Linked DNA regions of Homo sapiens: region 2 is linked to region 1. The links come from fine-mapping of genetic effects on gene expression. A gene starts in region 1. The other region holds a variant in brackets. All regions are shown on one strand. Distances are between the middles of the regions.

Region 1 (8,344 bases):
TTGCTGTCCATAGCAAACTGTAAAAAAACAAGACAGTAAAAAAGTCAACCTTAAGAGTCCTGAAGGAACAATTATAATGATGTTATTCATACATTCTATAGTTTATCAATATTTCTGTGACAATTTTTTAAAAATGCTTCATTTACCTTGTACCAACTAAGAGAAGTGAGAACAGATAAATAAAAAATGAACAAATATCTAAGAATATCTAATAGCATAGCTCTGATGGTTCTAAAAAATGTTCCAATGTGGTAGCTCCATTAAGTGTGCTATTTTACTCATAGGTGATGAATTCTTTACTTATGAGGTCCTAAGTAAAATGTGCCATACACAAATTTCACAACTATAACGTAAACCAAGGCAAGGAGCAGGCAGGGGAGCGGTGGGGGGAGAAATAACACACAAAAAATTAGCAGACTCTACAGTATGATTCCATTTACATAAAGGTCATAATCAAAAAGTAAGCCATATATTATTTAGAAATACATACATAGCAGTGCCAAAAAAAAAAGCAAGGAAATTATAAACACAAAATTCAGGAGAGAGGCTATTTCTGTGGGTGAAAGGAAAGGAAATTAACATGAAAGTGACACATAGGAGCATCAAAGGGTGTTTCTTCAGTTACATGGTAGGTGTAGGTGTTTGTTTTACTATTTTAAAAACTGTATGTGTCATATATTTTATATCTACAATTTTTTAAATAACAGAATCCCAAAGAGGTCTCTATAATCACACCATCCAAATCAGCACCCAATATCATGCTTTATCACACTTTATCACAGTAGTCTTTTATTTTGTTCACAAAATGTAACATAATTTGTGATGATTCATCTGTTAGCTTAACTCCTCCATCATGATATAAATCCCAAGAGAGCAGGAATGCCAGCACATAGTAGTTGCTCAATAAATATTTGATGGTAGGGCTAAATGAATAATAAATGAGTGAATACACACAGTCTCAGCACCCTGCAGCATGCAACCATAATAAAGTACATAGTTTATGCTTTCAACAAGTTTGTAACTTAGTTGTGGAAAACAAACACTAAACAATAAGACTATGACACATCTTTATATAATTTAATGCTGATGGTACAGTCTTTAGGTATGACACAAATTAGAGACAAAAATAAGATGGATGTGGGCTGGGAGCAGTGACTCACACCTGTAATCTTTAGGAGGCCAAGGCAGGCAGATCACTTGAGGTCAGGAGTTCAAGACCAGCCTGGTCAACATGGTGAAACTCTGTCTCTACTAAAAGTACAAAAAATTAGCCACGTGTGGTGGTGGGCACCTGTAGTCCCAACTACTTGGGAGGCTGAGGCACGAGAATCGCTTGAACCCGGGAGGCAGAGGTTGCAGTGAGCCAAGATCATGCTACTACACTCCAGCCTGGCAACAGAGTGAAATTCCATCTCAAAAAAAAAAAAAAAGTATGTAAACTGGAAAAGTTGGGAAGGCCTCAAAACAGGAGATTTGTGCCATGTACTGAAGGATAAGAACACTATAGAATCAAATAAAAAGGAAAGTATTCAGTGAGGCAGTAAAGAGCAGAAGCTAAAACCAAAATGGACATGTTTGGCCAAGACACCAAGACACAGGCATAATTTTTTTAGACCGGTCCCACTCTCTGCGGACTTTAAAGTCTTCAAAGTCAACCAAATATACAAATTTGGGGGTTAAATAAAATCTTATTTATCTTATTTCACATGAAATCATAAACAGTCAAAATTCTAATTACTAATCTTTAGTATAGAAGACAAATGCCAAGTCTCTTAAAATGCCAGCAGTCCAGCTTCCTAGCACAGGGGGTACATACTAGGATGTAAGGCCAGTGAGGCAGGCAGGCTGGCTGGCAGCATAGCAGAGAGATGAGAGGTAAAAAAAATAATAATAATAATCCAGCTTGTTAATTAGAAATGCTGGCCTGATCTAGGCTGGGGGCAACAGAAAGAAGCGAAATAGGGGGAGAGGAGAAAGAGGAAGGGTGAGTGAAAAGTTCAGGCGGAATCAAGAGGCCTCGATGACTACCCAGATATGAGGGAGACAGGAATCAAAGATTACTTGTTAACCAGTTAGAGGCTGAGTGACTAAGAGATGAGTGCTACCACTTCAAAACTGGAAAGTCAGGAGGAGGTTCAGGAAGAGCTGCTCAGTATAGGAGGTAATGAGTCATATTTAGGATAGAATAATGTTTAAGGTATTGTGAGATACAGAGTTGCAATGTCTGGCTGGCAAGTGACAAAATAAAGTGGCTCCTAGGAAAGGAACTGAGGTTAAAAAGGTTTAGGAGTCAGTCGTCATTAAGACAGGAAGGGGATAAGTGAATGGACATGTCTAACATTGCATTAATTATAATTATTTGTTTTAGTATCTGTCCCCTTCCACTGAACTGTGAGCTTTCTGAAGGCGGGATTAAATCACACTTTTCTTAGTTACCACAGAGCCTCATTCAGTGCTATGAGGTAATATAATACAGTGTTTAGGAGTCCATGTTCCAGGTTCAAATCTCAGCTCAACCACTGATTATTAGCTGTATAATCCTAGATGAGTTGGTTATATAGCTCTGTGTTCCAGTTTCTTTATCTAGGAATAGGGATAAAAATAATAGTGCCTATCCCATAGCTTTCTTAGAATTAAATTTATTTATTATTATTTATTTATTACTGTTGATTTTCAGAAGCAGCAGATCAAAATGGCTTAACAAAACAAAGAATATCTGAGGCCCTTCAAAGGAGCTATTTTAGAGCCATTCCATTTCAAGATCTTCATCTGTGGAACAGCAACTTTGCAGTATGTCATGGAGAACAAGGGATGACTGCACTACAGAATTTTTAATATTTCACATGAGCAAACACTGCAAAGAAGGAATGAGAAAGAAACGATGCTAAATATATCTTTTTAAAATGTCTGCCACTAAGAGTCCAGCACCAGCAGGTGGAGCCTCATAACCACATTTTTGTCATCCCTTTCCTTTTTCTCTCCCTCAGTCATGCAATATTATTGCACGTGAAGAAAGACACTAAATGGCCTTTGAGGCTCAGTTTTCCACCATTCCAGTGGCTAGGCAATGTGCTGGCCCAACATATCTGAGTCATCTCAACAAGGATAGGCTGATACCAGCTGCTGAGGTCTGGAGGTGCCCCCTTCTGACAAAGCCACTTCCCTGGCCAGAGTTTCCACTAATGCACAGATACTTGGATGCTCCCTGTGACATTACTGGAGTGAAGTCACTATTAACTATGATACTAGCCATGCTGAGTCCGGTTCAGCCAGCTCCAGCCTAAGCGTACTCTCTGTGGGATAATGAAAGTTTGGAGATTATGCATGCTCTGCTACTTGCTTGTTAGTGAGTTTAAAGCCAATATATCCTACTAGATATTGCCCTACGTGGTAATAGTAGTATGTACATCATGCCCTCCTTGAATAATAGAGAGCCTATTATGAAACAAGCAGTATAGACAAATGTTCCTATACTTATATGTTTAAAAAAATGCAAAAACCATGATTACTTTTGCACAACCTAATAATTAATAGCAAAGATTAGAAAGAATCTAACTTCCTATCAAACGAGGCCCAATTTTAACGTACGGCACTGGTATACAGAGTTTACATATAAATCTTTAGGACACACAAGAAATTGGTGATATGGGTTGCCTCCAGGGAAGGAAAATGGATCGATGAGTAAAGGAATGAAAGGGAGCTTTCTTCTTTCATGACTTTTGAAGTTAGTAGCTATTTAAACTGCATCATCTATTTAAAAAGAAAATAAAGATTTAAAATTTTTAGAAAAAAATTCACCCCATCACTTGTCACGGCACCCCGTTTTAACTCTTTGAATAACACTTACTACATATTTTCTTACACTCTCATTAATTTGTTTATTCTGTCTTTCCCCATAACTGAATAAAGAACACTCACTCCATGAAGTAGAGATTTTGTCTCTATTGTTCACCCTGTAGCACCCAGCACTTAAACAGGATTTAGCACCTAGCAGCCACTCAATAACCATTTGTCGAATAAACCTAAATCGACTTTGCTGTCTTACCTCCTAAACCTCCCCTCCTCCAGAATTCTGAGTTTGGTGGCCTTCTTCAACGTTTTCATTAACACCTAGCATGGACCTCTATCTCTAGAGTTCTCACATGGTATTATAATTGCCTGTTTGTGTTGGGCTTCGGCCAGAAAACTGTCATCTATTTAAGGGCACAGACTTGGTGCCTGACATACAACTGACAATAAATATTCAATGAAATCTATCAAAATAACAGGCTGACGCTACCAGAGGTCCAGGAGTCGCAGGGATTGCTCAAATAAGAGCACAGGAAGACTCAGCTGCGCAAGGGATCAGATCATCAGCACTGCCTTTGCATCGATGCAATCAGACCGATTGTCACCGGTCAGAAAAGCCCCAGAAGCGCCACACTAACACGCCCCATGTTGCAACCGTCCTCTCCAACCCCAAAGAAAACAGAAGATTGACACAGGCACCACGTGAGCGCCCGAACCAAACACAAACACATGCACCCTAAACACTGAGAGAACCACCCAACGCAGACACCCTACTGCCCACACTGCACCAAGGGCGCCTCTGGGATCCATCCCCTTTCCCTAGGTTCTCAGCCCTAGCTGGCAAGGCGGATAGAGAAGACCGGAAGAGGCTGAAAAGAGGAAGCGGTGATTTGCTGCCCGTATGCCCGCCAGTAAGAAGTGCCACACACCTCCGCTTCGGCTCAGGCCGGATTCTCACCATGCGTGTGCCTTCTTCTTTGCCAGCCTCTCCACTCTAGCACCAGAACACCGCAGCGGATACTTGCACGCCATCTCCCCTGGGCGCGGCCATGTTGGAGAAAACTGCACTACATTTCCCATGAGCCCGCGGGACAACGAACAGCGCTCCCACAGTCCTCTTCGCCTCCCAGAGCCCGGGAGTGACCCTTTTTCGACCAAGTGTCTTTGTAAAGTGCTGTCTGTTACACTGAAAATTCAGTTGTCTTTTTGGGGGGAGTAGTAATAATTGGTAGTGCAGCTATATTTTTATCTGTTGCTCTCCAAATGGACAAGGTCAAACAGGTTTGGGCCCTTTGGTCTTTCAGCAATGTCCCCTGGCACCTTCTATTCTTCGTGCATATTTCCTCCTGAATCTTATTAGAGGTGAGAAAGGAAAATAAATCTTGGTGCCACAAAATCACTAAGCTAAAGGGAAAAGTCAAGCTAGGAACTGCTTGGGCAAACCTGCCTCCCATTCTATTCAAAGTCATCCCTCTGAGTCATCCCTCTGCTCACTGAGATAAATGCATATCTGATTGCCTCCTTTGGAAAGGCTCATCAGAAACTCAAAAGAATGCAACCATTTGTCTCTCAGCTGTAATACGTGCGACCTGGAAGCCCCCTCCTCACTTTGAGTTGGCCCGCCTCTGCTTCAATTTGTCCCTCCTTTCTGGACGGAACCAATGTTCATCTTACATATATTGATTGATGCCTCATGTCTCCCTAAAATGTATAAAACCAAGCTGTGCCCCGACCACCCTGGACACATATCATCAGGACCTCCTGAGGCTGTGTCACGGGCGGGCGTCCTTAACTTTGGCAAAATAAATTTCCTAAATTGTCTGAGACCTGTCTCAGATATTCAGGGTTCACAGAGATATGGGAGAGGATCCTGGGGTCTGAAAGATGGCATTGCATGGGCGGGAGGGAAGGAAGTGAATATGCATGAATGTGCCAGGGGAATGGTGAGTACCACAGAGTAATAGAAAGATGTGTGGAAGAATGGTGAAGGAAGCAAGACAGAATTCTGTAGGCCTGCAGAGTGGGAGTTGCAGGGAGGAAGGTTAGAGAAATGAAATGATATGACCAGAGCTTCTTGTGGCAAGTGGGAGGAGAGACTAGAAGATGACTGATGAAGTGAAAAGTAACGAAATATTAACAAGCCCAGTAGTGGCAGAGGGAAAGAAAAAAGAGCTGGTAACAGATCATAAGTAAAAGACAAAGGAGAGGGTGATGATTAGCAGTTGTTCCTGCTCTGTTATTTGTTATATAAATGTACCATAATCCTTCTACCTGCATTGGTTTATGAGCTATGTGAGTGCAGGGAGGGAAAGGTGTAGGGGAAGAGGAATCACCTTCCCATGTTGTTGATACAATGGCCCCTATCTGCAGTGCACCACAGTGGACTAACAATAAAATAGCTGGCTGACCAGGAAAAGTGGCAGTGAAAAAAGAGTGCTGTTGAGTGGCGGAATGATTTGTGTGGAGAATAGGTTACAAACATGAAAGAACAGAAGAGGCAGATAGGCAAGCATTGCAATAGTCTAGGAAAGAAAGGGTGAGACCAAAACTTAATAGTAAAAATGAGGAGGCAAGTGCAAGCTGGAGAGGTCAAATCCACCAGACATTGCAAGCTACATGAGTATAAGAGGACACACAGGAAATCTCCCCATTGCAATTCTGCTTCTGCACTACTGGATGCTTTCAAAAACACATCCCCATAGAGCTTTCTGCAATGATGGAAATATTTTATAGTTTGAGCTGTCCAACATAATAGACACTAGTTAACGTGTGGCTTATGAGCATTTCAAATGTGGCTAGTATGACTAAGGAAATGAATTTTGAATGTTTAAATTTTAGTTTCAATTAAACTTAAGTAGCCACAAGTGGCCGGTGTCTACCAAACTGGATAACAGTGTAAAATATCCTCTTATCTCTTACTGATCAAATTCAATTACTTCATCTCAGTATTTGTCCTGCTTTAAGGTGCTGAAGCTTTTAAAACTTTTTTTCTGCACCTCTCTTTTAATTCTCTTTATACGATCTGATCACTTACTTTCAGAATTTTCCACTAGTTTCTCTCACTCTGTCCGTAATTAAATATAGGCAATCCCTCAGATTTTGAGTTTGACTCTTTTCTGTTATTCTAGTCTCTTCCTGTCTGCCCTCCCCAGAGTTATAAAGAGATTTGTGAATCATTCCCTAATCTTTATCTTCAGCCCTGGCTTCTATTAAAAGAAAAACTTTAGCCAAATTAAATTTAAAGGAGTTTAATTGAGCAATGAACTTTTGATTCGTAAATCGGGCAGCCCCCAGAATCACAGCAGATTTGGAGAGACTCCAGCACAGCCATGTGGTGGAGGATTTGTAGACAAAAAAAAAAAAAGGAAATGATGTACAGAAATCAGAAGTGAGGTGCAGAAACAGCTGTTATTGGTTACAGGTTGGTGTTTGCCTTATTTGAACACTGTTCAAACAATTGGCTACATTTGATTGGCCAAAACTCAGCGATTGGCACAGGTGTGGGCTATGGTTGGTTTACTCCTCCACTTGTTCACGATGTACAGAAAAACCTTTAGGCTGAACTTAAATATGTAAGGAGGCAGCTTTAGGCTAAACTTGATTAACACTTCCCTTTAGAAACCAGAGTGGTTTCTAAAGAATATGGGGGCATTGGAGTATGACCTGAAATCAAAACTACAAAACAGCATTTATTTTGTTGAGATTTACGTGATAATTAATAAAACACCAAACAGAGATTAGCTGTTAAGTGATTATTCATTTATCTTCTTCTCCTGAGTTACAAGCCTTCATTTCCCATTATCTGCTGCCCATCCATGTCTCAATATCTCCAGAAAAAGGTGAATACATATACAATTTTGTGTGACATCCTTTGTATACAGACCCTTATCTTTTCTTGGAATATTGCATAGACCATTTCTTCTAAGGAAGATGATTCCCCAAAAGATTTTCAGGTACACTGAGACCTTGTTTTATTTATTATGTAACCACAATGTCTTCCATAGTCTTGTAATACTAGAAATTTAATAAATGTTGAGCTGAAAAGGAATTTTTATTTGAAGATATAATTCATCTTCACCTGTGCCAAACACTTTACATGGTGATCTATAATAATTTTTCAAAAGTATGAAATGCTGACCTGTTTCCTTAGTAAAACCTTAGTCTCAACTTCATGAGAGGTGAGTCCTCTATGTGACTAGTAGTGGGGTCAGCAAGATTTTACTGTAAAGGACCAGATAATAAATATTTTCAGCTTTGTGGCCAAATATTCTTTGTTTTTATTTTTTTACTTTTATTTTTTGGGATGGAGTCGCACTCTGTCGCCCAGGCTGGAGTGCAGTGGCACAATCTCAGCTCACTTCAACCTCTGCCCCCTGGATTCAAGCGATTCTTCTGCCTCAGCCTCCTGAGTAGATGGGATTACAGGCACGCGCCACCATGCCCAGCTAATTTTTTGTTTTTTGTTTTTTATTTTTTTATTTTTATTTTTATTTTTTTTTGAGACGGAGTCGCTCTGTTGCCCAGGCTGGAGTGCAGTGGTGCGATCTCGGCTCAC
Region 2 (8,338 bases), 58 kb before region 1:
CTCTACTGTTGATGGACATTTGGACTTTTTCCAGATTTGTACTATTGCTACTGACAACCCTATAGAGAAAAACAGAGAAATCCATCATCATAGTGTCAGATTTTAAAACATCTGTCTCAACTTATAAGAATGAGCAGACCAAAAAAAGTCAGTAAGAATATAGATTTTTATTATACAATTAACAAATTATATTTGGCATCACTTAATACCTAAAACTCCTCTGGGAGTAATAATAATGAACATTTCTCAAAGCCATACTATATTCTTACACTATCCTATGATGTATACAAATATACTTTCAGTGAATTTTCATAACAACTCTTCCAATTTTACAGCTAAGAAAACTGAAGCACAGAAAGTCAAGAAATTTGCCCAAAATCCCACAGCTAATAAATGGCAGATCTAGAATTCAACTCTCAGGAAATCTGATTCTAGAGCCCAGTTCTGAATTCCTATGCTATTTTTCAACATCTTCCATTTTCTCTCCCTTCTTGAGTCAATTTTGGTATTTTTCATCTTCATAGAAAATCATCTATTTCATTTGGATGTTAAAATTTATTGGCATGACTTGACTTCAAACTTTGGTGTCAAGTACCAGAATTTATATCAGAAATAAAACTATTTTTAGCCCTATATTCCTTTTCCTATATCATGAGCCTTATAAATTCATCCCAGAGGGACCAGTACACCAGGATGTTGGACTGAAATTCCATGAAAAAAATAATCATCCTCTCATCTGAGACCCATTATTGATCACTATAGGTTTCTGAAAACTTGATGCTTCAAGATTAAGTATCACTAGCATTAATAACAGTAAACATTAATTAAACAGAAAGCAATTTTTCTTTAAAACAGTCTTAAGCATTACTACTACAAAAGTAATGCATACTGGGAGTAAAGTGTTCAAAAAATTTTTTCTTTGAAAAAAAGCCTTTTCCTTCTATGTGATAATTTGACCTATGGTTGAATTTCTACCTTTGTTCCTCCAGGAAATCTAACCTAAGTGGTAAGTTAACTGGGTTACTATTATGCAATATTGTACAGATCTTAAAAATAACCCGATTGAACCTGGATTGGGACAAACTATGAATCAACTAGAAATAACCAATAATGACACCACAGCTTTGGCTCTAAGGGCACAGTTAGGTCTGAGTGACCACATTCTAACTTTTGTCATTTAAACAAAGGAGTTAAAGGAGCACATTTGGGTTGTTTTTAGCACCCTGCTCAATGAATTTGGAATACCAATTAACTCTTGATAATAAATTAGTCAGGATTAGTAGTTATTTCAGTCACTTAAAAGTAATCTTTTGCTCCAAGGTGAATCGTCTCTCATTTTATGTTTTTCATGGCATTTATCACTATCTGGCACATAGTATCTATTTATTGATTTGCCTGCTGTCTGTCTCCCCGTCTAGAATGTAAGCACCATAAGGGCAAGAGCTTTGCTCTTTCTTATTCACTGCTTCATTATCAGTACTTAAAATAGTAACTGGTACATGGTTGGGTTCAAAAAATAGTTTTTGAATGAAACTCCTACTAAGTTCTGGGTATTATCTGATTGACTAAACGTTATTGGACACCCGCTATACGTCCAGCCCTGGGCTAGTCAGGCATGGAAATAGAATGGTTATTGTCTATGATTTTACAGAGCTAAAAATCATAGGTAAAACTTCAGACAATTTTCTATTGACCAGGACTATTTTCTGTATTAACATATAATTACATCCCTAAAATCCTACATGATTTACTACATTTAGTAGCACTTTACTAAAAAACTATTATCTTCAAAATCCTGGGCTCTTACCCAAGAATTACAAACACTGCACAAACTGCTTCAATCACTTTTAGAAACCACCTCTCCTAGGGAAGTAGGAGGAGCCAACACCACATCTGTGATGTCAGCCAACAGGAGACATTTGAATGTCTCCTAATGAATCCCTACTTCCAAATTTTTCTCAGCTTTCCTTTGGTACTTTCCCACAAGTTTTCTCTTTAATTAAAAGGGTAATTAATTTATTCTCTCTTTTTTTTTAAGTGAGCATTTCTTCTTTATATATGATGTGTTCAGGTAAATAATCAGGCCTTTTGAAGAATCACACACCAGTTTCCTTGATCGTAGTAGCTTTGCAGAATTCTGACATCACTCACAGTCCTGCAGGCACCTTCCAGTTCTCCCTCACGGAACACATGGTAGTAACGATGAAACACAGGACTTGGGTCCTGGGATCCTATGGGACCAAATGGCTCAACAGGTTTGCCTTTATCAGGATTTCCCTTAAGGTGCCAGGGAACCAGTACATCTTGAGAATAAAAAGAAGTCCTGTTAACATGAACAGGCAGCTTGGAATTAGAAACTTGCCTTGAATTACATCCTCCTTCCTGAGAGTCATTAATGCGGGGGACAGAAGATGCCGAGTCTCGACTGCCCATGTCACGCATTTGCTCCACAAGTGACCTCTGCACTGAGGTATCACTGTTCATCTCCTCTTTCTTTCCTTGGCTATTTCTGTTTCCTCTAAGATACTTGGACTTCTGCTTATTATATTCTTGTTCCATTGCCCAGACATAAATGAGTGCCTTCCCACCTGGTCTCAGGAGTCGAACAATTTCTTGGAGAGCTGCCACTCTACGCTCCTAATGAAAAAAAACAAAACACATGATCAACCTGGAAGAGACAGGAAATCAGAAAATAAAACTGACCATAGGACTGTTTTCAATTAGGATGAACAATAAGAATATCTAACAAAATATCTTATGTAAAACAAAAAGGAAAAAAAGAAGAAAGAGCATTCTGTTCTGTGATTAAGAAAAAAAGTGTTCAGGAAGGAGGAAGTACAGAAAAGCAAAATTTATTTCTGTTAATCTTCCCTGTGACTTTTCCTTAACTGTCTGGCTAGGATACATGAAACAACTGATGACTTCTTCTAGGGCTATAAGCGGTAATATGAAGCACTTTGACATTAATCATTTATATAATGCTTTTACAAAGGAATCGTGTCAACTATACTATGGAGACTTCTACTTATAGCCTTGACGAAGTTGTTTGTATTAATTCTCCCACTGAAAACAACCAGAAAGGCTGGGTGAAATACATAAAACAGCTGCTTAAGGCACTGGAGAGTAACACTGCAGGCAGGCCTTGAAGGGCTGTAATCCCTGAGAGAAGGGAAGTAAGCCAAGGTGAGCTCTAGATTCACTCCAGCTTTTCCCTGAGATTATCTGCAAATTCATAATGTGGGACAACAGAATATGAGCAGAATGCAGAGGCCTTAGTGGCCTGAACAGATAGGGCTCAGAGTACAGGGAGGTCAAAGCAGCTGAGGGACAGAGTCACAGATAAAGGAGAAGCTGCAGGAAAATTATTCTGAAAATCTATATGCAAACACCCTTTGAAGCATTTGCCAGTTTCTAAGCAGCATGTACACAGGGTGAAATTCCAAGAAACTCAGCAGAGTAGCAGCTGGGAAGTTAAAATGCTAAACAAAAATTTTAGCAGCCAATGTTAGAGAGACAGACATTGGAATTTAAGATCTGCCAAGGTATAAAATAGCCTTGGAGTACATTCCAGGCTTTCACTTGAGACCCAGAAGGGCTACATTACAGAAGTAGGAACAAAAATAAAATAGATATAAATCATCCCCAATAAAGCATAAAACCAGTTCTCTGCAGAATGAAAGTGATCTGCTTATACTTTATCTGCTTCTCCTTAGAAAAATTTAACTTCCTTCAGAGAAAAAGTACCCAAATCTTTTAACATAAAATGCCCAGCATACAGTGAAAAATTATGAAGTATGTTAAAAATGAGGACCAAAGGACTGAAAAACAGAGAAAAAAAAAAGACCATAGAAATAAATCCCCAGACAAAGCCTTTTTAATAACTATGGTTAGTATGCTCAAAAAACCAGAGGAAAAGATCAAGAATTTCAGTAATGATAAAATACATTAAGAAGTCGGAAATTCTAGAAAACAAGATGAATTTAAATTTTTAGCAAATTAGATACATTTACAAAGATAAGTATTAAACTATAGTTCAAGTCAGTATAAGTTACCCAGATTGAAGCACAGAGATGAAAAAGAGGGGAAAATACAGAAAACAGTGTCAATCGAGAATTTAATACCTACTAAAAATATAATTTGTAAGATGAAGGCAACATAAAGAGGTTTCAGATACACACAAGCTGAGAGAATGTGTCACTAAAGAAAACAGCACAGAGAACTCTTCGAGCAAAAGAAACTTACTTCCTCTGAAACTCTGAAGATGTAGGAGAAAAGGAAGAATACCAGAAAGGGTAAATAAAGTGAAGAAATATAAATGAAGGTTGAGAGCTTAAAACAATAAAACAGTAGCATATAATAATAATGCAATAAAGGGCAGAAGGGGTTAAATGTTATTAATGAAGTCTTACATTGTCAGGAAGGGGTAATCATGCCAATTTAAGGTAGACTATAATGTCAGAGATACATGTTGTCATGTCTAGGGTAACCATTTAAAAAACAATGAAAGAATATCTAGTCAGCAAGCTAACAAAAGAGGAAAAAATGTAATTATAAACTACATTATGGAAATAAGGCTGGCAATGAAAGAGAACTAAGATACATACAATATTTGATAAACAGAAATTAATATTTCCAGTTCCACAGCTCTCTTAGCCTTAGATAATGCCTTCCTTAATTGTCAAAGTAACACACATTGTATTGTACACCCAAGTAGCCCATTCAAAATGGCCAAAAAGCCCAGGAAATAATCTCAGGTTATATGTTAAAATAGGAGGAAGCATCTTCAGCATGACTGATACATAGAGAAGTGAATTAATAGGAGGAAACTTTGTGAGGATTTTTCCAAGTTGGGTTTAAGGAGCTGGGAAATATCGGGAAATTAAGCTAAAAAATAAGACGAGACCATTTTATAAAAATGGTTGAAAAAAAGATTATTAAAATAATAATAACTAATATTTTCTGAGCTCTTATTATGTATAAGACACTATAACAAGTACTTTATGTATTGTCTCATTTATCCTGACAGGCCTGTGAGATTGTTTTACAGTTGAGCAACCTAAGTATTCAGAAATCACTAAAAATGTTTGTTCAAGGTCACAAAAGTAAAAAGAATGTCAAATAGTCGAAGCAGTGGTGTCAGGGAAGAAGAGACTGACACTAGAATGTAAACTGGATTAAAATAGAGATATCCTGGGATCAGTTGAAAAGAACACTGCAGTAGTGAAGGGATGTGGCACAGGTCAGTAGACTCTTTTAATTCCCTTACCT[A/C]GTTGTGTCCATATACTTGGATGAGATTTTCCACATAAAATCTTATCTTCTACCCTATATCATCTTTCACAGTGCCATAAAAATGATCTCTATCAGGCATTTATTTCATCAAGGTATTCCCATGTGTTAGACCTTTCAATGACTCTCTAAGTCCAAATTATAACTATGGCATTCAACCAACAACACATAAATCCAACAAATTATAAATAAATAAATAAATGCTGCCTCCTCCACTAAACTATGAGCTCTATGAAGCAGGGACTGGGTCTTCTCCATCTTGTGCCCAGCTATTTGCTTAATAGCAGTGTGTAACTGATTTTCAATGCCTTTTTTTTTTTTTTTTTTGAGATGGAGTCTCTGTCACCCAGGCTGGAGTACAGTGGGCACGATCTCGGCTCACTGCAACTTCCACACCTCCTGGGTTCATGTGATTCTCATGTCTCAGTCTCCTGAGTAGCTGGGATTACAGGCATGCGCCAATCAACCCAGATAACTTTTGTATTTTTAGTAAAGATGAGGTTTTGCTTTGTTGGCCAGTCTGGTCTCAGACTCCTGACCTCAAGTGATCCACTCGCTTTGTCCTTCCAAAGCACTGGGATGACAGGCGTGAGCCACGACAGCTGGCCTCAATGACTTATTTTTATTGTGGTAAAATATATGTAACAAAATTTGCTATTTTAACCATTTTTAAGTGTACAACTGAGTGACATTAAGTACATTCATACTTAATGGTTGTGCAACCATCACTATTATCCATCTCCAGAATTTTTTTCATCATGCCAAACTGAAACTCTGTATCAATTAAATCATAGCAACTCCCATGCCTCCCTCCCACAGCCTCTGGTAACAACTGTTCCACTTTCTGTCTCTATGAATTTAACTATTCTAAGTAGTTCATGTAAGTAGAATGATATAGTATTTGTCCTTTTGCATCTGGCTTATTTCACTTAGCATAATATCCTCAAGGTTCATCCATGTTGTAGCATGTGTCAGAATTTCCTTCCTAAGGCTTAATAATATTCCCTTATAGGTACATAGCATGTTTTGTTTATCTATTCATCCATTAATGAACATTTGAGTTGTTTGCACCTTTTGGCTGTTGTGAATAATGCTGCTATGAACGTAGGTGTATAAATATCTGTTCAAGTCTCTGCTTTCAATTCTTTTGGGTATATATCTAGAAGCAGAATTGCTGAATCATGTGGTAATTCTATGTTCAACTTTTTGAGGAACCACTGTACTGTTTTCCACAGTGGCTGATCCATTTTACATTCCCACCAGCAATGCACAAGAGTTCCAATTTCTCCACATCCTTGCCAACACTTGTTATTTTCTATATTTCCGATAATAGCCATCCTAATGTATGTGAAGTGGTATCTCATTATGGTTTTGATTTGCATTCCCTAATGATTAGTGATGCTGAGTATCTTTTCATGTGCTCATTGGCCATTTGTATATCTTCTTTGGAAAAATGTCTATTTAAGTCCTCTGTCCATTTTTAAATTGTTTTGTTATTGTTGTATTTTTGTTGTTCTTTATATATTATGGATATTAATTCCTTATCAGATATACAATTTGCAAATATTTTCTCCTATTTTGTGGGCTACCTTTTCACTCTGCAGATAGTGTTGTTTGATGTACAAGTTTTTAATTTTGATGGTCTAATTTATCTATTTTTTGTTTTGTTGCCTGTGCTTTTAGTATCATATCCAAGAAATCATTGCCAAATACAACGTCATGAAGGTTTTCCTCCTGTTTTCTTCTTAGAATTTTATAGTTTTAGCTCTTCTGTATAAGTCTTTGATCCATTTTGAGGTTTTTCTTTGCATATGGTGTAATGTAAGGATCCAACTTCATTCTTTTCCATGTGGTCAATGAATTATTTTTTAAATAAATGACAATAGATATGTAGAGAAAGTTGGACATGACAGATTTCTAAGACGATCATATAGAACTTCATAGAGGGGAGGGTATCCAACATATATTTGTGATTGCAAAAAATGGATATAGATATATTTGTGTACATTATTGTCTTTTATAACTTGAAAATAAGTTATAATACAACAACTGAGTTGTAGCTGAAGCAACCAATATGTGCCAAACATTTCTTCCAAATGAAGCGGATTTTTAAATTTACTGGTATAGCTGCTCCTTTCAAGCCTTCCTCTATTTGCAGTCATGCCTCTGAAAGCCACTGAGGCCTAGTGGCTTTTGCTGTAAAAAACCTAATATTGTTTGCTGCAGCCCAGCAGAATCTCTTGGTTACTATTAAAAGTAAAAAGACTAAAGACGCAGACAGTTTTCTGATTTGTTTTGATTTGTTTTGAACTCAGTTAAGGTCATAAGGTCTACTGAAACTGCTGGTGACCCATAAGGTGAGCTATAAAGCTATTGCATAAATCAAGGGAATGACTGCTGACACCCAAGAAAAATAAGTGGTCTTTTGTTCTTTAAAGAAAGAAAGAAAATATTAAATATTAAATTCATTTATTTTAAAACTAAGAACATACTAAGAGTCAACATACTACTACCAGCTAAAAAAGACAGAGTTTTGAAAAAAAAGAACAGGAAAGGAAGAAAAACAGAATGGGAAAGAAGTAACACTCACATGTCAGGGATAAAACTATGGGTTGAGAAAGAAAAGCTGAGAAAGAAATACAGAAGGGACTCATAGAGTCTGAGGAGAGAGTATACTCAAGAAGCTTGGAGCTGATGATCTCAAATTCTCTTCCAGCTAAAATTCTGTGACTCTGGGTTTAAAGGAAGGCATTTAGAAGTGAATGAGACTTGGGGTAGGAAAGGGGCGAAAGCATGCAGCAATAAAGGGTAGAGTCCCATCAGGCCTCTGTTTAAGTAGAAGATACTTAAACAGTTGCCCATCTTTATTCTGCATGCTCTCTTACAAAGAGGGAAAACTGTGACAAGAAAAGAGAACGGAAAGAACTGAAAAGCTAAAACAGGGTCCAAAATCAGCAAAATTCATGAACTCTTCCTGCTGCTTTAGCTACAAGTTCTTAAGAGAAAGAAAGACCATACTTACTGCTGTTGCAAAATGATGAATAACAGCAAT

What was found. PIP is the estimated chance that this variant, and not a neighbour inherited with it, causes the effect.
Region 2: its variant is fine-mapped to the expression of ALKBH8 in whole blood (TOPMed, PIP above 0.99).

What each region holds. Positions count from the first base shown.
Region 1 is chr11:107,560,883-107,569,226 of GRCh38, forward strand. It overlaps ALKBH8 (alkB homolog 8, tRNA methyltransferase), which reads right to left and starts at 4,853. Exons shown (of 12, transcript NM_138775.3): 1 at 4,719-4,853; 2 at 1-17. The coding sequence starts at 11. RefSeq lists enhancers at 4,204-4,722, 4,526-5,015, 4,723-5,239, 5,086-5,145, 7,074-7,153.
Region 2 is chr11:107,502,579-107,510,916 of GRCh38, forward strand. ALKBH8 (alkB homolog 8, tRNA methyltransferase) reads right to left here. Exons shown (of 12, transcript NM_138775.3): 11 at 8,309-8,338; 12 at 149-2,637. The coding sequence ends at 2,080. Among named protein-coding and RNA genes, the nearest start is that of CWF19L2, 49 kb to the left of the region's middle. The variant A/C (reference allele first, on the strand shown) is at 5,269.